Regions from separate parts of the Homo sapiens genome. Here region 1 is linked to region 2. Evidence: fine-mapped expression QTL. A gene starts in region 2. The other region holds a variant in brackets. All regions are shown on one strand. Distances are between the middles of the regions.

What was found.
Region 1: its variant is fine-mapped to the expression of CPLX1 in whole blood (TOPMed, PIP above 0.99).

Annotation. Positions count from the first base shown.
Region 1 is chr4:753,817-761,816 of GRCh38, reverse strand. It overlaps PCGF3 (polycomb group ring finger 3), which reads right to left. Exons shown (of 11, transcript NM_006315.7): 9 at 401-538. LOC124900163 (chloride intracellular channel protein 6-like) reads left to right here. Exons shown (of 2, transcript XM_047416474.1): 2 at 1-8,000. The coding sequence starts at 1,770. The coding sequence ends at 3,653. PCGF3-AS1 (PCGF3 antisense RNA 1) reads left to right here. Exons shown (of 3, transcript NR_171661.1): 3 at 1-1,374. Among named protein-coding and RNA genes, the nearest start is that of PCGF3-AS1, 24 kb to the left of the region's middle. The variant G/A (reference allele first, on the strand shown) is at 3,777.
Region 2 is chr4:816,670-832,273 of GRCh38, reverse strand. It overlaps CPLX1 (complexin 1), which reads left to right and starts at 6,145. Exons shown (of 4, transcript NM_006651.4): 1 at 6,145-6,228; 2 at 7,673-7,782. The coding sequence starts at 7,752. RefSeq lists enhancers at 1,284-1,799, 1,800-2,317 and a silencer at 6,126-6,175.

The sequences.
Region 1 (8,000 bases), 67 kb after region 2:
AAGGCCGCCTCATGCCAGCACTCCTTCGTCTCCTTACACACCACAGCCTGGAAGGGTCCTCCCTCTCTGCATCCGCCCATGTCTCCCCTTGTGAAATTAAAGCACAGAATTTCTCGTTTTGAGGAAAACCTTTATCCTATTTTAAAACAGTCTCATCATCCCCGCCCTAGTTCTCTCTTCCACTCACAGTAGCATTCCACGTTCCCTGTCTCTGGGCATCCTACAACCCTTAGGGCTGTCTCCTATCCCGCTCCCCGGTGAAGCAGGCAAAACGGATTTTTTTCTGGTTAAAATCTCCAAAATTGTTAAAAACAAAACAAAACTAAGCAAAGAATCTTGGAGTTACCTTTAGAAATAAGAGAGGACTTGTTATGGTTTCTACTTAGGGATCAACTGTTACCTCGTTAAAGGATGAAAGGTTGAGTTTTTTGGCGATGAACTTCTTCAGATGCAAGACGGTCGCCTGGGCTGAGCAGCGGATCCACTTCCGCTTCAGCCCGCGCAGTTTGCTGCTGTTACACTCCAGGCAGATGCTCACCTGCGGGAAAGGACGCTGGTGAGAGCGCAGCAGGAGGGTTCCCCCGGACGGTTCTGGAGGCTTCCTTAGACATATTTCACTAATTCCTCAATCTAGGACTGCTGACCTTTTTGAGATCAGACATCTGCTTTGACTTCAACACTGCAGAAAAAGAATCTTACATACCTTATCTGAAAACCTGTTTATCGTCTGCTTGCCATTTTGTGAACTATAACCTCACCCTGTTAATTCTGTGTTATTAACATAATAGTTGAGAGTTAATCCCACAGTTACTTATCCATCGCAGGCACTGGGTTCTTGGTCTCCAGCTAAGCCTGTCCGGACAAACATGGCGCAAAGGGGAGTGGGCGGCCCCGTGTCTGCGAATGCACTCGGGGAGACAGCAGCGACTGCAGGAAGACAGTAGGGAGAAGCCTTGAGCAGGGCCACAGGCGGAAGGTCACAGCTGCCTTCCAGGTGACCAGCAGTTTGGCCGCAGGATAAAAAGTGACTGTTAAGGGGACTGTGGAGTCCCAGCAGCCACGGGCTCCCTGCCCGGTGCGAAAAGGAATCTGCCCAGGACGAGGCTTCACCCAAGGGCCCGGCCGGCTTGGCCCCCAAGATGTGCCTGACAAGGAAGGGCGACGCTCACGGCAAACGCTTCTACAGGTGGAGCCGCAACAAACGGCACAGTTAGGGCCTAAAAATGCAGTGGAAGAATGGACAGGGGGTTAACTGAAACATGTATGTCTAAAATTACAAAAGATACAAAAGGGAGGACACCAGGGGTACAGACGGGCAAGTATTGAAGGTAATCAGATACAATTTCTAAAAATAAAAACACTCACGGAAACTAACATCTCAGTGGATGGCTGAACCACAGATTCTTCTCAGCCGAGGACAGATTAATGTCCTAAAAAAAAATTCACTTGAGGAAGTTACCCATCAGGAGTAGAGATAAACACACCAATTCAAACAATAAAAGGAAGGCTAAGAGAAAGGGGAGAAGACGGGAGCCCCAAAGGGAAGAACAGAAAGGAAAGGAAGTGTTAAGAAACAGTGACTAAGGATCTCCCACAACAGTGAAGGGCAGTCCTCAGATTCAGGAAGCAAAAGAATCCAAAATACAAGAAATACCCACTCCGACACGGTGCAGTCACTGAGCACAGCCCATTAAAGGCCCCGCAAGAGCCACTGGGGAGATAAGTGGATTCTGTGCAAAAAGCAAGAGACATCCTTGCTCCGGGGTGGGATGGAGCGAGGCCGCCTGCAAGCATCACAGGAGAGGGACAATGTGAGCGGGAAGAAGATCCGGGAGTCTGGAGAGAGAACTCGGGAGAGAGGCCGTGGGGAGAAAGACCCGGAGTCCGGAAGGAGAAGAACTCGGGAGAGGGGCCGCGCGGGGAGAAAGACCCGGAGTCCGGAAGGAGAACAACTCGGGAGAGGGGCCGCGCGGGGAGAAAGACCCGGAGTCCGGAAGGAGAACAACTCGGGAGAGGGGCCGCGCGGGGAGAAAGACCCGGAGTCCGGAAGGAGAAGAACTCGGGAGAGGGGCCGCGCGGGGAGAAAGACCCAGAGTCCGGAAGGAGAAGAACTCGGGAGAGGGGCCGCGCGGGGAGAAAGACCCGGAGTCCGGAAGGAGAAGAACTCGGGAGAGGGGCCGCGCGGGGAGAAAGACCCGGAGTCCGGAAGGAGAAGAACTCGGGAGAGGGGCCGCGCGGGGAGAAAGACCCGGAGTCCGGAAGGAGAACAACTCGGGAGAGGGGCCGCGCGGGGAGAAAGACCCGGAGTCCGGAAGGAGAAGAACTCGGGAGAGGGGCCGCGCGGGGAGAAAGACCCGGAGTCCGGAAGGAGAAGAACTCGGGAGAGGGGCCGCGCGGGGAGAAAGACCCGGAGTCCGGAAGGAGAACAACTCGGGAGAGGGGCCGCGCGGGGAGAAAGACCCGGAGTCCGGAAGGAGAACAACTCGGGAGAGGGGCCGCGCGGGGAGAAAGACCCGGAGTCCGGAGCGAGAAGAGCTCGGGAGAGGGGCCGCGCGGGGAGAAAGACCCGGAGTCCGGAAGGAGAACAACTCGGGAGAGGGGCCGCGCGGGGAGAAAGACCCGGAGTCCGGAAGGAGAAGAACTCGGGAGAGGGGCCGCGCGGGGAGAAAGACCCGGAGTCCGGAAGGAGAAGAACTCGGGAGAGGGGCCGCGCGGGGAGAAAGACCCGGAGTCCGGAAGGAGAACAACTCGGGAGAGGGGCCGCGCGGGGAGAAAGACCCGGAGTCCGGAAGGAGAACAACTCGGGAGAGGGGCCGCGCGGGGAGAAAGACCCGGAGTCCGGAGCGAGAAGAGCTCGGGAGAGGGGCCGCGCGGGGAGAAAGACCCGGAGTCCGGAAGGAGAACAACTCGGGAGAGGGGCCGCGCGGGGAGAAAGACCCGGAGTCCGGAAGGAGAAGAACTCGGGAGAGGGGCCGCGCGGGGAGAAAGACCCGGAGTCCGGAGCAAGAAGAGCTCGGGAGAGGGGCCGCGCGGGGAGAAAGACCCGGAGTCCGGAGCAAGAAGAGCTCGGGAGAGGGGCCGCGAGGGGAGAAAGACCCGGAGTCCGGAAGGAGAAGAACTCGGGAGAGGGGCCGCGCGGGGAGAAAGACCTGGAGTCCGGAAGGAGAAGAACTCGGGAGAGGGGCCGCGCGGGGAGAAAGAACTGGAGTCGGGATGGAGAAGAACTCGGGGGAGGGGCCGTGCGGGGAAAGACCCGGAGTCTGGAGGGAGAACTCGGGAGAGGGGCCGCGTGGGGAGAAAGACCCAGAGTCCGGAGCGAGAAGAGCTCGGGAGAGGGGCCGCACGGGAAGAAAGACCCGGAGTCCGGAAGGAGAAGAACTCGGGAGAGGGGCCGCGCGGGGAGAAAGACCCGGAGTCCGGAAGGAGAAGAACTCCGGAGAGGGGCCTCGAGGGGAGAAAGACCTGGAGTCCGGAGCGAGAAGAACTCGGGAGAGGGGCCGCGCGGGGAGAAAGACCTGGAGTTTGGCGGAAGAAGTGAGAAGCAGGGAGAAAGGGGGTGCCCGGTGAGAGCCGCGGTGGGGGTGCTTGTGCAGGGAGGGGCACAGACTTACAGTGACTTTGGACTTTTTTTTTTTTTTTTTTTTTTTTTTTGAGACAGAGTCTCCCTCTGTAGCCAGGCTGGATGCCGTGGCACGATCTCGGCTCACTGCAACCTCCGCCTCCTGGGTTCAAGCGATTCCGCTGCCTCAGCCTCCCGAGTAGCTGGGACTACAGGC[G/A]CGCACCATCATGCCCGGCTAATTTTTTTGTATTTTAGTAGAGACGGGGTTTCACCAAGTTGGCCAGAATGGTCTTGATCTCCTGACCTCGTGATCTGCCCACCTCGGCTTCCCAAAGTGCTAGGATTACAGGCGTGAGCCACCGCGCCGGGCCAACTTTGGATTTCTAAAAATGTAAATAGTTTATACATTTTGTAACCACTAGTATAACAGAAGTAGAGCTTATACCTTGCAAACCAGAGGAAGAAAGAAAGAGATTAAAGAAAGTTACTAATTCACTAGACAACAGGGAGGAAGGAAGCATTAGGAAAAAACTGACGAAAAGAGCAAAATAAAAAAATAAAGCAGGAACCAACTCACATCCTCCATGGAAAATCGTGGAATGTGTAAGGTAACGTGCCAGCTAAAAAAGTTTGATTTTTTTAAAAAACCTAGCTCTACGTTGTAAACAGTGTCACATTTAAGACATTTTAAGAACAGAAATATCACACAAGTATTCACCAACAGAAAGCTGGCATAGCTAGATTAGTATGTCATGGGACTTTAAGAAATAGAGCTTAATGAGGAAGAAGCCCCCCAAAGACGAGAAACGTTTCTATACGGGAACACAGCTGGTGACAAACGCACGCCAACAGAATGGCCATGGTGGGCTTCACGTCTCTATAAGCAGCGGACGCACCCTGCCCTCAACAGGCAGCCGCCGTCTCCGACTCAGGGAACAGGTGTGCCAGCCACGCAGGCACAGGTCTGAGGCAGCGGGGTCTGCAGTGCATGGGGCCCGCAGGGCAGCAGGAAGGGCTGCACAGATGAACGCGGGCCTGCATGCACCTGCGGGAAAACGCAGACACACATGGGCGGGGGTGGGAGTGGGGGGGATTGTGGAAGGAAAACAAGAAGAAAATATGTTTACGTTTGCTCAGATTTGCATACATACAGGAGGTGATCACAGTGGTTCTCTATAGGTCACTACAGACAGCGGCAGAGATGAGAACAAAATTAAACCTTTTCAATAATACTAACCTCAGGACTGAACGAATTACCTATTTAAATACACTAAGTTACAAGCATGCTTCTAATTTTTAGGCTTTATTATGGCACAGTTTACACACACCTCTTTTATGTATATAATGCAATAATTTTCCGTAAATTCACAGACTTTCTCGATCATCGCCATGGCAGTCTCAGATGGTTTCCATCACCTCAGAGCCCCCGGCAGGCCCCTCTGCGATCTAACCCTGCTGGGGGAGCGGGGTGGGGAGTGAGTGTTTAATGGGGGCAGAGCTTCAGTTTGGGAAGATAAAAAGGCTCTGGAGATGATGGTGGTGGTGGTGGCTGTGTAACACTGGGTCTGTACCCAAGGCCACTGAACCACACACCTGAAAATGGTTAAAATGGCATATTTTATGTGCATGTAACACAATTTAGAAAGCTGGTTAAAAAAAACATGAAAATTCTAGAATTATTTTAATAAGAACCAAATTATGAAGCTGGAAACTAAAGGAATGTTCAACTCTAGAGTTTAGAAAAGAGCCGGGTGCAGTGGCTTACACCTGTAATCCCAGCACTTTGGGAGGCTGAGGCGGGTGGATCATTTGAGGTCAGGAGTTCGAGGCCAGACGGGCCAACATAGTGAAACCCCGTCTGTAATAAAAATACAAAAATTAGCTGGGCATGGTGGTGCGTGCCTGTAATCCCAGCTACTCAGGAGGCGGAGGTGGGAGACTCACTTCAACCAGGGAGGTAGAGGTTGCAGTGAGCCGAGATTGCACCCCCACACTCCAGCCTGGGCGACAGAGTATAAGACTACATCTCAAAAAAAAAAAAGCCAAGTGCGGCGGTGGCTCACGTCTGTAATCCCAGCATTTTGGGAGGCTGAGGCGGGTGAATCACCTGAGGTTAAGAGTTCAAGACCAGCCTGATCAACATGGAGAAACCCCGTCTCTACTAAAAATACAAAAAATTAGCTGGGTATGGTGGCATGTGCCTATAATCCCAGCTACTCTGTAAGGCTGAGACAGAAGAATCGCTTGAACCCGGGAGGTGGAGGTTGCGGTGAGCCAAGATCAGGCCTTGCACTCCAGCCTGGGCAAGAGGGAAACTCCATCTCCAAAAAAAAAAAAAAAAAAAAAAAAAAAAGGACAATTCTGAAGAAGAAAAATGAGGAGGGGTATGTACTCTCCCAGAAGACCACAACTTAATGGTAAAATAAATCATTGCAATTCAGTAAGTTCCTTGTTGTTTTGGCACAATGGGAGACAAGAGACCAGCGGAACAGAGCAGAGAGCCCAGGGGGACCTGAGAGTGTGGAAACTTGGCAAAGTTGAACTCCACCTTGTCCATTCTACACACAAGGTCAACTGCAGGGGCTTACAACCCAACTAAAAAGCAAACCTTTAAAATATTTTACAAGACAATGTAAGAGAATGTATTTATGACCTTAGAATGGGGAAACATTTTTAAGATTCAGAAGAAAATACCGATACATTTAATTATGTCAAATTTTAAAACTGTGGATGATGATAGGTCGAAGAAAGCCGACAGCCGCAGAAGGAAAGACGATCCCTGCAGTGAGCGTGGGGCGGCGAGGGAGGAGGTAGCCCTGCAGCTCACATAAGGAAAAGTCAGTCTTCCCAGGACAGAGATGGGCAAAGAACAAGTAAGCAACTCACACGCAGAGGAGCCCAGAGACGTGCGATGAGTCGCTGGACACCCCACACACAGGAGACTGGAATCAGAAATAACACAGATACCGTGGAACACACCTGCCCAGGGGGACAAGTGCAATGTCTTAGAAGAGTGATGGGCTGGTCACCACCTAAAAGTCTCCAGTATTAGATGGGAAATTAAGTGTAAAAAAGTCACAGCGTAACAACACGTGCCACGCACACAACGCCGTGTGCTCTGCGACACCACGCGGGCCTGTGTGCACACAGCAGTCACCATCAAGCGGGTACGTTACACACCTCGAAATGCAACTCTGATTGTAAAGAGGGCACTGCAGAAAGACCTGTCGCTGTCTATGGCTACACATCGGCCTGCCTGGGAACACTGAGCTCCTTGTCCACCTGGAAGTGAAAAAGAGCCCAAGATCTGCCATCTGCATCTGGATCACCAGCGAATCCTGCAGGCTCCCTCCCTTTTAAATATGCCCCAAACCCAGTGCTGCACCCGCACCGCCACCTGCCTGGGCCTCTGGCTCAGACGCCTGCCTGGTCTCCGCATGGCCACCCTGGCCGTGCAGGCAGCTCACTGCAGAGCAGCTGCGCTAAGTGGCAACCCTCTGGGGATAAAGCCACGCCAGGCTGCATCCCACAGCACACCCCGATCTCACATCCCAACTGCCTCATCTCCCTCCTCTGGGTGAACAGCAAGTTCTCGCCACAGGCCCCCAAGGTCCCCAACCTCACCTCCAGCCTTACCCGTTCACTCTGCCCCGGACTCACCACCCACGGCACGTGGGGCAGCCTGGCACCAGGTCCCAGCTCACTACCTCCTGCCTCACCTCTACAGTCCAGGAGAGGCTCTTTCTACCCTCCGCCCCTTCTACCTCCAGGGGCTCTGGCCTGGATGGGTGGGCTCTCCGCTCCCCACCAGCCAACCCTCACCACGCCGGCTGCGAGGCCCTTGCAGGCAGAGCCCACTTCCAGCAGGCGTGCAGCAGGAGCAGGTGACCGGCTCTCGGGTGTGAAGTCCCAAGAGCACAGCGCGTGCCCGAGGGTGCGGACAGGAGCCAGTGGGCCAGGGAGGCACAACTCGGAGGAGTGAAAACAAACCACATTTCCAGCTCCAGACACAAGAGCCATTGGAGCCTCTGGAGGGCGGCAGGGACCCCACACCAGAACCCCCAGCCTGCTCAGGGTATAGGAGCCATTTCCCCTGTTTCTGGTGCTGGGACATCACACCCACCAAGTCAACAGGCCCGGTAAGGGTTTCCTAACTCTGCACGAGCGAAGATGAGCAGAGACCACACCAGCCCTGCAGTCCCACTGGGTCTGTGGGTGCCAGGACCACCAAAGACGGAGGCGACTCCTGCCAGGACCCAGAACGCCCCTGAAGTCCACTGGGCAGCTGCTCGCTCCAAGGGAAGCTGAATGTAGGGTTCGTAGAAGGTCAGAGTCTCGCTCTTGTTACCCAGGCTGGAGTGCAGTGCCTCGATCTCAGCTCACTGCAAGTTCAAGCGATTCTCATGCCTCAGCCTCCGAGTAGCTGGGATTACAGGCACCC
Region 2 (15,604 bases):
CCCAGGCCTCAGCCCACACTGTGGGCACTCCTTGGGTTTCCTGTGACAGGCCTGGGTGACCTCCAATCATTTAGGGCTGGCTTGATCACCCACCGGCCGTGCTCCCCTCACCTGTGACGGGCCTGGGTGACATCCAGTCATTCAGGGCTGGCTTGATCCCCCACCGGCCGTGCTCCCCTCACCTGTGACGGGCCTGGGTGACATCCAGTCATTCAGGGCTGGCTTGATCCCCCACCGGCCGTGCTCCCCTCACCTGTGACGGGCCTGGGTGACATCCAGTCATTCAGGGCTGGCTTGATCCCCCACTGGCCGTGCTCCCCTCACCTGTGACGGGCCTGGGTGGCATCCAGTCATTCAGGGCTGGCTTGACCCCTCAACAGTTGTGCTCACCTCACCTGTGATGGGCCTGGGTGACATCCGGTCATTCAGGGCTGGCTTGACCCCCCACCGGCCGTGATCCCCTCACCTGTGATGGGCCTGGGTGACATCAAGTTATTCAGGGCTGGCTTGACCCCCCAATGGCCGTGTTCTCCCTACTCTGTCTCAGGCTCCTGCAGGGTTCTTGTTGCCATCTCCTGAGCTCCTGTCCACTGTCTCCTCCCAGCACACGACCCTGTGAGGACACAGCCCCACCTGCCCTCCTCAGGACAAGTGCCCAGCTCCCAGCAGTGTCTGGAAACACTTGTGTGCTAGTGGGTGGCTGAGCTACTGAGGGCTGAGCCAGTGCCTAAGCAAAGGAGCAGGGTGGGTGGACGGGGCCAGGGGCTGTGGGATACACATACCCTAGGCAGCAGCTTCTCCCGTATCACCTCGTGGGAGCCTCTGAAGCTTCCTGAAGCTTCCTGGAGGCAGCTCAGAGAGAGGCCACACAGGGCCAGGCTGCCCACTCCACACGTGTGTCCCTGGCCCAGCAGGAGCCCCTGAGCAGGGGGAGCTGAGACCCAGGAAGCCTTGGTTTGCAACGCACAACTTCTGTGCTGTGAACACCCCTGTCTGCTGGCCTCCAGCTGCCCAGGCACCTTCCCTGGAACTGGACACCCTCCCTCTGCTGGGCGCCGCTATGCTGTCTACACTGCTGGGGTGACTGCCCTGTCCTGCAGCACTGCCTTGGCGCCCACTGCCCTGTGAGACGGTGCTGCCCTCCCGCACCTTCCCAGGCCCACCCCACCCTAAGATGCCCCTGCTCTGCCCTCCAGGGACAGCCCCAGGGACTCACTTCCGCCACTGTGCCCCCACCACACCCATGGACACAAAGTCCGACAGTCAGGAGGTCAAGCCCTAGGGGACACAGAGAAGGCCACAGCCCGGCTGAGCCGTGCACGCCCTTTCCCTAAGTGAGCACCAGGGCTGCCGGAGGGGTCCCGTGCTCCTGGGGAGCCAAAATAGCTCCTCCTCCCACTTCCTGGGCATGAAATGCTCCCAAAAATACCCACATGCATGTGATGTGGCCTCACTCCAGGTGTCACTGGAGGAGAGGGAGGGAGGGAAGGGGCATTCGGCGTTCTGAGCCTGGCTTCAACCCAGCTCTCCCTGCCCTCTGCCCCCCGCCTACCCCTTCCGGCTCCATCACACGGCACTCAAGACCCTAAGGAGCATCTGAGGCTCTGGGTCCCAGGAGTGCAGGTGTTTGGCCCAGGATCCTCCCGGGAAACTTCTCCTCCCCACGACTGGCAGCTCCCAGGATCTCTTGCCCATCTCCAAATTCCAGCACCACCCACTGTGCTCACCACCCAGCCAGCCACACCCCTGGGCCAGCCCTGCCTCTCCCAGACGAGCTGTCTCTCACCCTGTCCTCCGGGAAGGCCCCTGAAGCCCCTCCTTCCTGCCCTGAGGTGTTGAGGCTGGGAGGGCGGAGTCCCTCGAGCAGCTGCAGCCCACAGCAAGGCCCCTTTCCTCCACAGCCTCTGGGTTTGTCCACCCCAAGCCCACTCCCCACGGGCGGCTCTTTTGTTGCCCTGGGTCCCTGGTGGATCAGGGTCCCCGGCTGAAGGAGGCCAGATCCACACCCCACACTCAGCGCAGGGCTGGAGCCGGTGGCTCCCCCTGAAGCTGGAGGGCCCTGGCCTGGCGGGTGGGCTGCCCGGGACCTGGCCTTGCCCAGCTCAGAGGCTCCCTCCAGCCAGGGGTGAGTGCCGCTGACCCGGCTACCTGGTGCTGCTGACTGCATGGTTGGGACCATGCTGGGCCGCAAGAGATCAGCTCAGAGCGGGCCCCATGTGTGCCCTGGGGCACCATGAGATCTGGGCACCGTGTGACCGGGCAGCCGTGGATCCCAGGACCCCAGGGCAGGGCCTGGGGCACAAGCATTCGCTCAGCTGCGGCAGTACCTCTGCTCTGCTCCCAGGGGCCCACTAGGCTGACCTCCCAGGCGCTGGCTTCCCCCGGCTAGATGCTGGACCTCTCTCACCCAGTGGAGGAGGGGAACGGGTTCAGGGCGCTTCCCAGGCGAGGACACCCTCCACTCAGCCCAGGTCCTGCCCCAGCTCTGGCAAACGGCAAGGGTCTACATCTTGCTTTGCTCACGCTTTTCACGTGTTGTTACTTTTGGAATATCAAAATCCAGCAGGAAAATGACAGCGTGGATGGTGTCGGCACTCAGACTGAATCACTCAGCACATGTAACTATTAAGTTTGTGTTTGAAGGTTCTGGGTGGGTGCTGTGGGCCGGATCCACACATGCGGTGTGGCAGAGCGCTGCCCTCCTGCTGGGCCCATGGGGGACATGGCCCCCTGGCCACACCCCACGCCAGGACTGAAGGCCAACCCCAGGAAACCCTGACAGTGCTTCCCAGACCCTTTCCTGGCCCAAGGCAAGGAGGATGCCTGGCACCCAGGAGGGCTATGGGCAGATGGGACCCAGAAGATGGGAGCAGGGTGGCAGTGGAGGCCTTGGCAGGGGCTTCCAGAGAGGCTAGAGCTGGAGGTTGCAGCAGGGCAGCTGCCTCCTTTCCCTGCTGTCTGGAGTGACCCCGCAGGGTCTCAAACCCAGTGCCACATGGTCCTCACACAGTCCTGCTTTGTGCTCCTGGGGTCCCTGGCCTCACTGGGGCTGGGGATGGAGCATCTGAGGAGCAGAGGGCTGGCTGGGCCGGGGGTACCATCCATGTCCAACCGGCTGGCACAGGCCCCACAGCCAGGGCTCGGCCCAGCCAAGCACTCACACTTCTCCAAGCTGACCTCTGGGGGAGCCCTCGTTGGAGCTCCATCCTGCTCCTCCCGGACTTGCTCCACACCCCACCTCCTCCTTCTCCCAACATCCGCCTGGACGGGGTGGCCTCCAACTCTTCCCCGGCCTGCAAAATGTTTTCCCTGCCTGGATCTTCAACCTGGCCTTCAACCTGCTGGCCCCTTTCTCACTCAGCTCCTGCCCCTTTCCAGCCGGCTGGAGGTCTGCGGGGCTTCTTCTCCAGGGCTCAGGGCCTCCTCTGGGCACTCGAAGGGCCAACCGCACCTGCCCTGGTGTGGCCAAGTGGCCCGTGGGGGTTGGCAGAGGCCTTTTGCCGCGTCACCACCTTCTGCCACTGGAACGGAGCCTGGGTGGCTCCTGGCCAGCAGCCTGTGACTCCCATCCCAGCTGGGCAGCCCTGGCCTGGCTCACACACCCTGAGTGGGCACCACCCTGAAGCCCTCCAGCAGATGCCCACTTTCCCTTCCCCTGGCCCAGCTCACACACCCTGAGTGGGCACCACCCTCAACTCCTCCAGCAGATGCCCACTTTCCCTTCCCTAGGCCACTTGTCACTCTGACCTGGGGCTGTCACCAACCTTGTCTATTTCCCCCAAGTTGTGGCTGGGCCCCCCCACCCCCAGGTTAGGGCCTAGACAAGTGTGAGAGCTGAGAAGCAGTCACTGCATGTGTGGCTGGATGTAACAAGTAACAACAGGGACAGGCAGAGACAGAGAGAGACGGACACAGAGAGACAGAGACAGACACAGAGACAGAGAGATACAGCGACAGAGAAAGAAAAGACAGAAAGACAGAGACAGAGATAGAAAGAGACAGAGAGACAAAAAGACACAGAGACAGATACAGTGACAGAGAAAGACAGAGACAGAAAGATAGAGACAGAGAGACGGGCAGAAAGACACAGTGACAGAGAGATACAGCGACGGAGAAAGAGACAGAGAGAGAGGCAGAGGAAGACAGGGCAGAACGTGAGGGCTGGCAGAGGGTCTCTGTCCTCTGTGCCCCAGGCCCCAGCTCCAGGTGTGCTTGGAGCTCAGGCTGGCCTGGGTTGTAGAACGGGGAGGGGTCAGCCTAGGAGTCCAGTGCTTCTGCTCGGAAGAACGGGCACCTCCCTGCACTCCTGTGCAGACTGTCCCAAAGGCACCAGCATATCCCTTGCATGCAGCTTGTGGAGGTGGCAGGGTCAGTCATGAGCCTGGCTCTGGGCTCAGGGGGTCACCCCTGGGGTCCTCTCTGGGGTTACTGTCCGGGTTAGCTGTTGGGTTATCCACCCAGTTAGGGATGGAGAGAGAAAGCACCAGGGCCGAGAAGTGACCTCTTTCTTGGACCCGAACATCTCACCCTTGCTGTCCCCTCCCAGGTCCTGAGGAGACTAGAGGAGCAGATGGAGCAGAGCAGGCTGGGGCTCAGGCCGGGCCCCCAGGCATGTGTCCTGCCTCCTGTCCCTGGGCCCAACGTTCTGAGCCCACTTGGCTCAGATCCCGGGAGAGAGGAAGGGACGGTGCTGGGGGTGCCCATGGCTTCCAGCCAGGGAGGCTGAAGAGACCCCAATCCTAGGGCATGGGTCCCCCTCTGGGAGGTTGCCTGTGAACCCCCAGGCCCACGGGACCCTCATGGCTGTCTCAGGGAGCCCCCATGGGCTTGGCCCTGGTGCCTTCACCCTTCCCTCTCCCCCAGCGCTCCCTTCCTCTGCGAAGGGTCCCCTGCCAAGTCAGCAGAAGAGTGGGGACGGGGGCAGAGGCGCTGGGGCCAAGGCTGGGAGTCCAGGCCTCTGAGTCCTCCTGAGCTCAGGCTAAACACGGGGCACCGGAGGGGATGGGGCTGAGGGCGGGGGAGGGGCCGCATCTTCCCTGCGCCAGGGGAGTCCCCAGGACTCAGCAGGGAGGGGACAGTGACAAGTTAGTGCGGCGGCCACCGGCAGCGGCCCCCCTCCCCCCTCCCCACCCCCACCCCGCCAGGAGCACAGGGCAGCTCTAGGGTCGCGGTGCGCCCCATCCCTCCCGCCGCCTGGCTCCCGACACTGCACAGCGCGAACCGCAGGGCCGACCTTGCGGCGACCCCGCTCTCCCGCAGTGCCGCGTCCGCTGCAGAGGAAATCCCGGGGGCCAGGGGAGGGAGCGGTGGGGTCTCTGGCCTTCGTCCCGGTAAAGGAAACAGCGACTCCGTTACACCGAAAGTGAGCCCGGGCCGGCCTGCGGGTCTCTGGCTGCGAGGGGCTTGCGTGGGTTTTCAGGGGTCTGGGGGCCCCCTTCTCCCGCCCTGCGATACGGGGAGGTCGGGGCAGAGGGGTCGGGGCGGCGGGCGGCGCTCAGGGACACGGTCACCGGAGAATGGGGGCGGCAGCGACTCCCAACCCCTGGCCCCTCCGCTCGGGAGGCAGCGACTTCTCCGCCCGAGGGTTTTGCACCCACCGGCCCCGCGCGGACCCTGTAGGGAGCAGGCCCGCACCGTCGGGCTGGGGGCGGGGGGGCAGAGCCGGGGGCGCCCAGATCAGGGGCGGGCGGGGGTCGCAGGCGCCCGCCGGGGGAAGGTCGAGCCCGGGCCGGGTTGGAGGGAGGCGGGGGCGCGTCACTCGGGTCCACCCCCGCCCCCGCCCCCGGGTCCACCCCCGCCCCCGCCCCGGGTCCACCCCCCGCCCCCGCCCCCGCCCCCCGCCCCCGCCCCCGGGTCCACCCCCGCCCCCGCCCCGGGTCCACCCCCCGCCCCCGCCCCGGGTCCGCCCCCCGCCCCCGCCCCCCGCCCCCGCCCCCGGGTCCACCCCCCGCCCCCGCCCCGGGTCCACCCCCCGCCCCCCGCCCCCGGGTCCGCCTCCGCCCCCGCCCCCGGGTCCACCCCCGCCCCCGCCCGGCGCCCGCGGCCCCGCCCCTCGGCGCTCCCCTCCCCGTGCTCGTCACGCTCGGACGCGGGCGGGGGGCGGGGAGCGCCTGCGAGTGACGCGCCCTCCTCGCGGTGCCCTTCAGCCGCCGCCGCAGCTCACCGGGCGCCACATGGACCCAGCCGGCCCGAGCGCGCCCCGCCGCTGACCGCCCGCGCCCCGGGAAGGTAACCGCGCCCCGAGCGCAGCGCGCGCCCGGCCTCCGCTCCCCGGGTCTCCCCTCCCGGCCCCGGCGTCTCCTCCCCGGCCCCCGCTTCTCCCCGCTTCTCCCGCCGGCCCCGGTTTCTCCTTCCCGGCCCCCCTTCTCCCCGCGGCCCCGGCTTCGCCCAGCTCCTCCCCCCGGCCTCCGCTCCCCGGGTCTCTCCTCCCCGGCTCCGGCTTCTCCCCCCGGCTCCGGCCTCTCCCTCCGGCCCCCGTTTCTCCCCCCGACCCCGGCTTCTCCCCGCAGCCCCCGTTTCTCTCCCGGGCTCCGCGCGCGCGGGGTCCGGGGCGGGCGCTGTCCACTGCCGCGGTGCTGAAGCGGCCCCCGCGGTCCCGGCCCGCGCCCGGCCTCCTCCTCGCTTCTTCCTGTCTCGAGGCTCCCCCTCTCCTCCCTCGCCCTCTTTCTTTCCTCTCCTGGCGCGCTCCCGCCTGAGGGCCGCTCGCCCGCCCGCAAAGCCGAGGGGTGCGGGTGCGGCGGGGCCGGAGCCCTGCGGGTCTGCGGGGCCCGGCCGTGCCCTCCTTCCCCGCGCCGCGGGAGCCAGGGGAGAAGTTTGGAGGAGAATCGGCGCTGCGGCAAAGCCTCCGAGGGGCGCTCCCCGCCCGCCGCCCTCCCAGTCCCCGCGCGAGTCTCCTTCCTCTGCGGAGGGCGAGGGGTGAACCGTCAAACAGTGTCTCTCCAGGGACCTGGGGTTCCCCGATAGGAGAGACCCCGCAAAACCGGGGGGCTCACTGCGGCTGCTGTGATTTCAGAAAGCGGCTTCCCAAGAGGGGACCAGAGCGCCCCACCCCACCCCATGCACGCCCCCGGGGCGGGGGTGCTCTGTCCCCGTCCCCACGTGTTTCCTGAAGGCTGAGCCCCCTGAAGTTTCTCCCCAACCCCGATCTCTTCTACGCGGGCCATGTGGGGGGCACACTGACTGCAGTGCCGTCAGGGATAGGGTCACCCAAGCCTCCCTGGTCAGAAGCCACAGGAGCCCGCCCTGAAGGGTACCCGCTCAAAGACCCACCCCCAACCCTTCTCCACGGCCCTGGGCTCGGGACCACCGCGGAGGCGCCGCTCCAGACACTGAGCTGCAGAGCGGAGCAGTCACCTTCAAACGCCCCCTGGGCCCCGCCCCTGCTTCCGCAGCCTGGCGCCAGGCGCCTCTGAGCGATGCCCCCTAAGCCATCAGCAGCCCTCCCTGCAGAGGCTTCAGACACCCCAGGAGCTGGGGAGACCATTTTCAGGTCCTCTGGGGTCCTGGTTTGGGTGTGGGGACAGAAGCCCCTCACGAAGGACTTCCCAGGCAGCCGCTCCAGGTGGGGGAGGGTCCAGCCCACAAGGTATTGCGGGTAAGGAATGATGGTCTCTGGGGAAGGCCAGGCAGGGGCCTGCTTAGGGTGACCTGTGACCACTTCACTCTCCCCCAGGAAGAACACTCGCTCCCGGCCATACTTGCGTGTGAGTTCTGACCCCTGGAGGAGCCACTGTGGAAGCAGAGCAATCGCCATGGAGTTTGTGATGAAGCAGGCTCTAGGAGGTAGGAAGCGGGAGGTGGGGTGGGGAGGGGCTGAGGGGACATGGAGAGACCACCACAGCAGCTGCTCCTCATCTGGCCCACCGCAGCAGCGCCCCTGCAGCCACACGGCCACCCACGCAGCCCTGCACAGGAGCCTGGGGCAGAGGAGCAAGGACCGTGCCCAGCAGCGCCCCCAGCCCGGCCCTTTTCGAGGCCCCGAGCCAGAACTGGTGTTCCTGGCGGGACAGGGGCTGCCCTGTAAGCTCACTCTGCCCCACTGCTGTGGTCGGGGCAGAGCCCATGGACCATGCTGATGCACGTCCTGGGGGAGGGTGCACACTCTGGCGTAGGCTTTACAGGGCCAATTCTAACTGGCCAGGCTGGGCAGCCCCCAAGGGGGCTTCCTTCCAGATGAGGAGAGCCAAGCGGTGGGAGAGCAGGATGCAGGTGGCAGCCTCAGGGACAGGCGTGGGGACAGAGCTGGCCTGTGCATCTGGCGAGGACCCTGTGGGTTTCACTTGGGTGAGGCAGCGCCATCCTCAGGGACCAGGGCTTGCTGGTTACGGGAGCGAAGGAAAAGGCCCGAAACAGCTTGTGTGTCTCGACTGCCTCCCAGGCGGGACGTGCAGCCTTTTTTGTGTGTACTGGGGTGGGGCCAGGCCCCCTTCCAACCTGCTGTCTGCTATTTGAAAGGAACCTCGTCCCCACTTGACCCAAGGCTGTCATTGTGGCCAGAGACCATGTCAAGAGCAGTGGCTGGGTTCCTAGACCAGGAGGTGGGCAGGGCCTGGGCCATGCTGGTACAGACGTGTCCCGGCAGAGCTGATGGGTCAACTCAGGCCTCGGGGCTGTCGTGGCGAGTCTCAGTTTTGCCCAGAGCCGTCCATCCTGTGTTCCCCCAGCACCAGTGCCCAGAACTCCTGTGAGGGGAACCTGTGGCCGGTGCCCGATTCTACCACTAGAGACGTCTTGCTTGGGTGGCCTCCACGGGGGAGCACCCTCACCTGATGCCATTCACACCTTGGAGTGAGTCAGGCCTCCTGGGAGCATTTCTGCAGTGGGGGAGCTGGCCGGGTTCGAGGGGCCAGGGACAAGGGTGTACAGAGGGCAGGCGCCGCTTCCCCCAGGGCAGGAGCTGCCTGCCTGGCTGTCTCCCGGAGGGTGGCTGTGCTTCCACTCAACACAAATTAAATGAAAAGATATTGAGCCTGTCCTGGGGCCACATCCCTGAGATTTCGTGGTCAAGGGTAAGAGTCAGGTTGAGTCTAATTATAATGGCTGCGTCACCGGGCTGTGATTCAGGGACAAGCCTGCATCTGCGCTGGGAGGGACGCACGTTCCACCCAGGGAGTCCCAGGCTGTTACGGATAATTAATTAGTTGGCTAATTCAGGCCCTGAGGTGGGCTTGTAAGAAACTGAAATATCTTATTTGGCTGTCTACATGACTGAAATTAGCTGGGTAATTACCAGCCTGAATTCCCTTTTTGTTTCATGGCAGCCCAAAGTTTCTCCAGCAGCAGCAACCGGGCAGGCGTCGCTCAGCGTGGTGGAGCTGAGCGGGGGCAGCCAGCAGACCCTGGGGGGGCTCCACGCTGAGTGCTTCCCAGAGCACCCCACATTGGCTTTGCAGAGCACGTTGAGGCTCGGAGCCAGAGCTGCTGAGGGCGGGAGCTGGTGGGGGGCTTCCAGTCGAGACCTTGTTTTCTGCCTCTGCGCCTCTGTCCCTCACCCGGCGAGCCTCATTGTTGCTGTCTCAGGATGCGTGTGAGTGAGACAGAGCAAGACAGAGATGGGAAATGGGGGAACCTCCAGACAGCACGACAGAGCTTGGCAGAGACCCCAAGAGAACTATTGAGAAACAGACCAAGCCCCGGACACAAAGAAGCTGGCAGGAGAGGGAGCAGGAGGCACCCAGGAAGCCGTTCAAAGAAAGGCGAACCCAGAAACAGGGTCGGGGAGGGGGAGCTGGAGAAAGAAAATGACAGCCCAGAAACAGACAGAGAAAAAGACAAGAATGTGTTATTCAGCACGCACAGGGACAGACAGGTGAAAACAGAGACGGCACGTCAGAGACAGAGGCAGAGGGGAGAGAGAGAAAGAGGGAGAGACGGAGACAGAGATAGAGGGAGACACAGAGACAGAGGGAGACAGAGACAGGGAGAAACAGAGACAGGGAGAGATGGGAGCAGAGGGAGAGACAGAGGGATACAGAGAGACAGACAGACAAAGGAAGAGGGCAGAGAGAGGCAGAGGGAGAGGTGGAGGCAGAAGGAGAGAGAGAGACAGAGAGAGTTAGAGAGATAGAGATGGAGACAGAGACAGAGGGAGAGACAGAGATGGGGAGAGACGGAGAATCAGAAACAGAGGGAGAGACAGTGGTGAGAGGGAGAGACAGAGACAGAGGGAGAGACAGAGACAGAGGGAGAGACAGTGGGGAGAGAGACGCATTAGAAATGAACTGCTAAGAGGAGTCAGGGCCAGGAGCGCAGGCAGCATGGCACATGCACACGTGCACGCCCGTCAGAGGGTGCAGCAGAGAGGAGGAAGAGGTGAGGACCTGCCCAGGGCTCTGGGCAGGGGGACAGGCCTGGTTAAATCAAGACCATTCGGGGGCTGTCCGCGGCAGGCTGGGCCGCAGGTGTGAGTCTTGCTGAGGAGTGAGTGGCCCAGGGCCTGCTCATCTGACCCAACGCTGGGTCTCAAGGAGGGGCCCCTGTTGGGGCCACCAAGGGAAGGGAGCATGGTGGCTGCCGGGGTGATCGCTCGTGGGGGAGCGGGAGGCTCCTCTGCAGCAAAAGTGGCCTTGAACTGGGGCCGGGCCTCCCCCCACAACACGTGGGTCCGGATCCAGGGTCCTCAAGGGAGTAATTTAAAGAAACTGGTTTCCTCAGGCCAGAAAGTTGCAAACACGGCCTGGGAGCTCTGTGGACAGCGTGGAGGAACGTGGCACGTGTGGGTGCCGTGGTCACTGCAGACCCTCATGGGGCTAAATGTGGCAGAAGCGAGCAGCCACCCGCTCTCCCATCCTCCGCCTTGATGTGACACACGCCCTGTTTAAACACGCTCAGGTCCTCGGGAATGTGTGGGGCAGGCGGGCCGGGGCTTCAGGTGGGACACGGCTTGGAGGATGCATGTGCGGAGAGGCTGGGGTGCAGAGTGGGAGGCAGCCGGACACTCAGGAGAGCCTCTGACTGCCCCAGCGACAGAGCCCAAGGCAGGACTCACCCATGCTCGGCTCTGCCACGTGTGGGGAGGTCTAGCGGGCAGGTCCAGTGACTCCGGTGGTTCAGTCACGATGGACAGTGTCCGGCAGTGAATGCCCCTCACCCAGCCAGGCCCAACCTGGGGGGCGACAGCCTGGCCTGGGTTCAGTGGAGAAGCTGTCCTTGTCCCCGGAGAGTGGTACGCTGTTGGGTTCTGTGTCCAGTCCTACATGGGGAGGGAAGCAGGTGAACATCTGGGGAGAACACACCGTAGGGGTGCGGTCCTGGGTTTGGCGTGAGGGGGAGGATTGTGGTCATCCAAGCCGGGGTGGACGAGAAGTGTCTCGTGGACGGCCCAGGCAGGAAGTGCAGGGTTCCACCGTGTGGGAGAGCCCCTCCGCGCCCCCGTGGGGCTGGGCTGTGAGTTCTCGGCAGGAACAACCCAAGGGGCTTGTGGGGGCCACCGGTGTCCACCTTGGGGGTTCACGCGAGGCTGGTGAGGGGTGTCCACCTTGGGGGTTCACGTGAGGCTGGTGAGGGGTGTCCACCTTGGGGGTTCACGTGAGGCTGGTGAGGGGTGCAGTTGGGAAAGAATCTCCCTCTGTGAGCAGAGACCACCAGAGCCAGGAGTCCAGGCCAGGGATGCCCTGAGCCACAATGCAGCCAACACCAGCATCTCCCCCAGCCCTCCACGGGGATGGAGGGGGCACCTCCTTCCTCCTTCCCGGCACCAAAGTGGGGCTCAGCACTCACCATCTGGGACCTCAGGCAGGGCCATGGAGGCAACTGGGATCTGGGCAATCCTGCCCTGATTCCCAGTGTCCACCCCTGAGACTTACACCATGGGCAAGGTTGGGTGTCCACCCTGTCCCAGACAGAGGTCCCTCTGGCTCTCCTGCCTCTCTCTTCTTGCCCAGTTTGAAGCTCAGCCTTCTCTGTTTATTAGGGACCCCACAGGCTCCTGGTGGTTGAGGCAATGGGGGATTCTGCCAGTTCCTGCCCCATTGGGCCACTGATCAGGCTCTCTGGACCTGGGAGGACGATGGAGCTGCAGGCTGGGCTGAGCTGGGTCCGGGAGGACGGTGGAGCTGCAGGCTGGGCTGAGCTGGGTCCGGGAGGACGGTGGAGCTGCAGGCTGGGCTGAGCTGGGTCCGGGAGGACGGTGGAGCTGCAGGCTGGGCTGAGCTGGACCTGGGAGGACGGTGGAGCTGCAGGCTGGGCTGAGCTGCAGGGACAGCAGCAGATCCGGAGGTGAAGCTCTTGAATTCCACATGGGGAAGATTCTTTTGGCTGCAAGTAACAATCAGAGGAAGAGGAGCTTGAATTGGGGTGACGATGTGTCAGGAGGTGGCCCAGCTGCTCAGCGATGCTACTGGGGACCTGGTGCCATCAGGTGCCACCTTCGTCCTCAGTGGATCTTTCATGCTCAGCTGCTCCTCACAATCTCAAAGTGGCTGCTGCTGCTCCAGCATTGCATCCATAGTCAGGGAAGGAAAAAGAGAGGAGCTAAGGGGCAACCCCTTCATCTGTTTAGTGGTGGTCTTTACAGACTCTCATGGAGGGTTTCCATTTACTTGCCACAGCTAGAAGAGGAAGGTGGGGGCCAGGGTGGGCCCGTCCTACTCCAAACAGAGGCCGGGTGTTGGGCAGGCGTCCCACAGTGCCTGACTCACACCCAACTTGGGGAGACTTGGTTTCTAGGTGCAGAACCGCTAGGCAATGACCCCCCAGCAGTGTGTCCTTCCCAGCCTTACTCCTTGGAACAAGGCATGTGCTCGAAAGGCAGTTTGCAAACACTTAACAGTAAAATGCCAACATTTGTTCAGAACGGACTTCACAAACGCCGTGTGGTCGAGAAAGCACTCACTCACTTTGCTGGGTTCGGCAGAGATGCCTCTTATCCCAGATTTCTGGGAGGCTGGAAGGACCCTTCAGAGAAACTGCCTTTCCTCCCGAAACCGTGAAGGGCAGTCCTTTCCTCCAGAGAGGATGCTCTTGGTTGATTAAGCTGCAACTCAATTATAAATACTTTAGCCCCAACTTGGGAATAAAATGGATATTATGCACTTCAACTGACAAAGTTATTTATGTTTTTGCCTCATTGGTTGGCAAGACGTTCCAGTTGGGGTTAGAGCATTTGTTTCAATAGCTCCTGCGTGACAGGACTACTTCAGTCCCGCTTTGCTGCCATCAGACGCTGCTGGACTCGCACGGGGAGCGCAGAGCGTTTAATGCTGGGACATCAGACAGAACAGGGAACTGATGAAAGCTTCAGAATGAACATTGAGTCCACGCAAATCTGATGCTGCCAAACTTCAGAGAACCTGGGTCTCCTGGTCCACACGGAGATCAGACGAGGGGGACACTGAGTGCCTGGCAGCCCTTCCACTAGGCGGTCCCCCGGGATGAGGCGAGGCCCCACCCTCCAGCTCCACCATCCAGTCCAGCACCGTCCTTGGCCGCGGGCACTGCTGTCCTTGCCTGCGGACCGAGCGCCCAGCTCTTCAATACAGCACCTGGTCCTCGCTTTCAGGAGAGGATGCGTGGAGACAGGCGAGGTGGACGTGCCAATAAGTGACCCAAACAGTGCCAAGCTCGGCGGCAGATGGCGCAGCCGCCGGTTTCCAGGACAGTTGTAATCCTTGGCCCTCATTCGGCCTCTTCCCGTCACTCACATGGCGCGGCTTTCCTGGCCTCGGCGGTGTGGACGGGGGGCCTTGGCCATGGTTGCAGGACCCCAGCTCCAGCTCAGGTCAGCGTCTCATCCCAGGTGAGCTAATGAAGATCTGCAAAGCCACCAGAGTTGCTGAGGAGAGAAGAGGTGTTTGTGGCACTTCAGCGTGGGCGCAAAACAGAGGGAGCATTGCAGGACGTGCATCAGACGCTGGGCCCGGGGACCTGTGAGGCCACCATGTCAGCCTCTCTGAGACGGTGGCAGTCGAGGCCCGTGGCGGGGCTGGGGCTGGTCCACAATCAGCTTGACAAAGTAAGGTGGTGGCGGCCAGCCAGGCCCAGGGCCCCTGGGTGTCAGCAGGTGAGCAGGTCAGGCGGGCATGGCCCGGTGCTGCAACACCTCTCCAGCGCCTCGGTGCCTCCCCTCCCCAAGGGCTGGGGCGAACCAGGCTTGGCTTGGACCTGTGCTCAGCTGCACTGGGGCCTCTCGGGCAGCAGGCTGGACACCCAGCTCTCAGGAGGGGTGTGGGCTTGTCTGCAATGCAAGAACAGGAGCCAAAAGCCAACCTTCTTTTACACCAGATTCACCTGTGGTCATTCTTCTGACCTTGCCCAATGCGCTCAGGGATGACAGGTGGACAGTGAGCCACCCCCGAGGGCGGTGGCGCCTCCAGTGTCCCCTGTCAGACTTGGCTCCTCAGATGCTGGTTTATTCCTTGACACCGGATGGGGAAAATATTCTGAGATACTATGTCCAGCGTGCCCACAGGACCTCCCCTCACGGCTGGTGGGAACAATGCACCCTCCAATGGGCACCTGGGGAGGGTCTCTGGCCAGCAGCATCTCCAGATGGAAGTGGAGGGGAAGGGAGCCCCAGGGCCTGGAGGAGGAAATCCTCATGGCCAAGGGGGCGTGAGGGAAGGGGGCGGTCACTGCAGTCATCAGTGGGTAGGGATTCCTGATGCTCCATCCTTACTTAAAATTTTTCTCTTAATTAATATTAAATTATCCTGATTATGCTGGGTCTTGTTTTAATTTTTGCCTAGGAGTCTCCTTGGACTGATTTTTTTTTTCTTTTTGAGACAGAGTCTCGCTCTATTGCCCAGGCTGGAGTGCAGTGGCGCAATCTCAGCTCATATAACCTCCGCCTCCTGGGTTCAAGCGATTCTCCTGCCTCAGCCTCCTGAGTAGCTGGGATTACAGGTGCCTGCCACCACGCCTGGCTAATTTTTTTTTTTTTTTTTAGTAGAGACGGGGTTTCACTGTGTTGCCCAGGCTGGTCTCGAACTCCTGAACCCAGGCAATCCACCTGCCCCGGCCTCCCAAAGTGCTGGGATTACAGGCGTGAGCCACTGCGCCCGGCCTGAATTTTTTTTTTTTTTTTTTTTTACATTCACCCAGTGTGCCCCTGCTGAGCCTTGCTTAACGTTTCTGTCACTTTATGTGGGTTGCCATTCAGAAATACATGTAGTTGGATTTCATTTTTTATCTAATTGGAGCCTTAATGCATCTGTTTAATGTGCACTGTTTTGACCAACATATGTGATCTAACCTCTGTCATCTTTGTTGTTGCCTTTTTAAACGCTTTCTTGCTGTTTCATTTATTTTAACTTAATGTAGGGACCACATTTTCTCTTTAAAACCTCTGCAGTGCTTTGGAATGTGCGTGCTCTTTGAAAACATGATGTAAGCTCTACTTGCCAGAGTTGAAAATGATGCAGTGTATTTCCAGTCCTTGCCAACACACTTCCAGGACTTCTGCACACTTTATACTCTTCCGACTCCTCTCCCATCTTTTGGTCTTTGTAATTTTTGAGACAGGGTCTCGCTCTGTCGCCCAGGCTGGAGTGCAGTGGAGCGATCACAGCTCACTGCAGCCTCAACATCCCGGGCTCAAGTGAGCCTTCTACCTTAGCCTCCTGAATAACTGGGACTATAGGTGTGTACCACCACACTTGGCTAATTT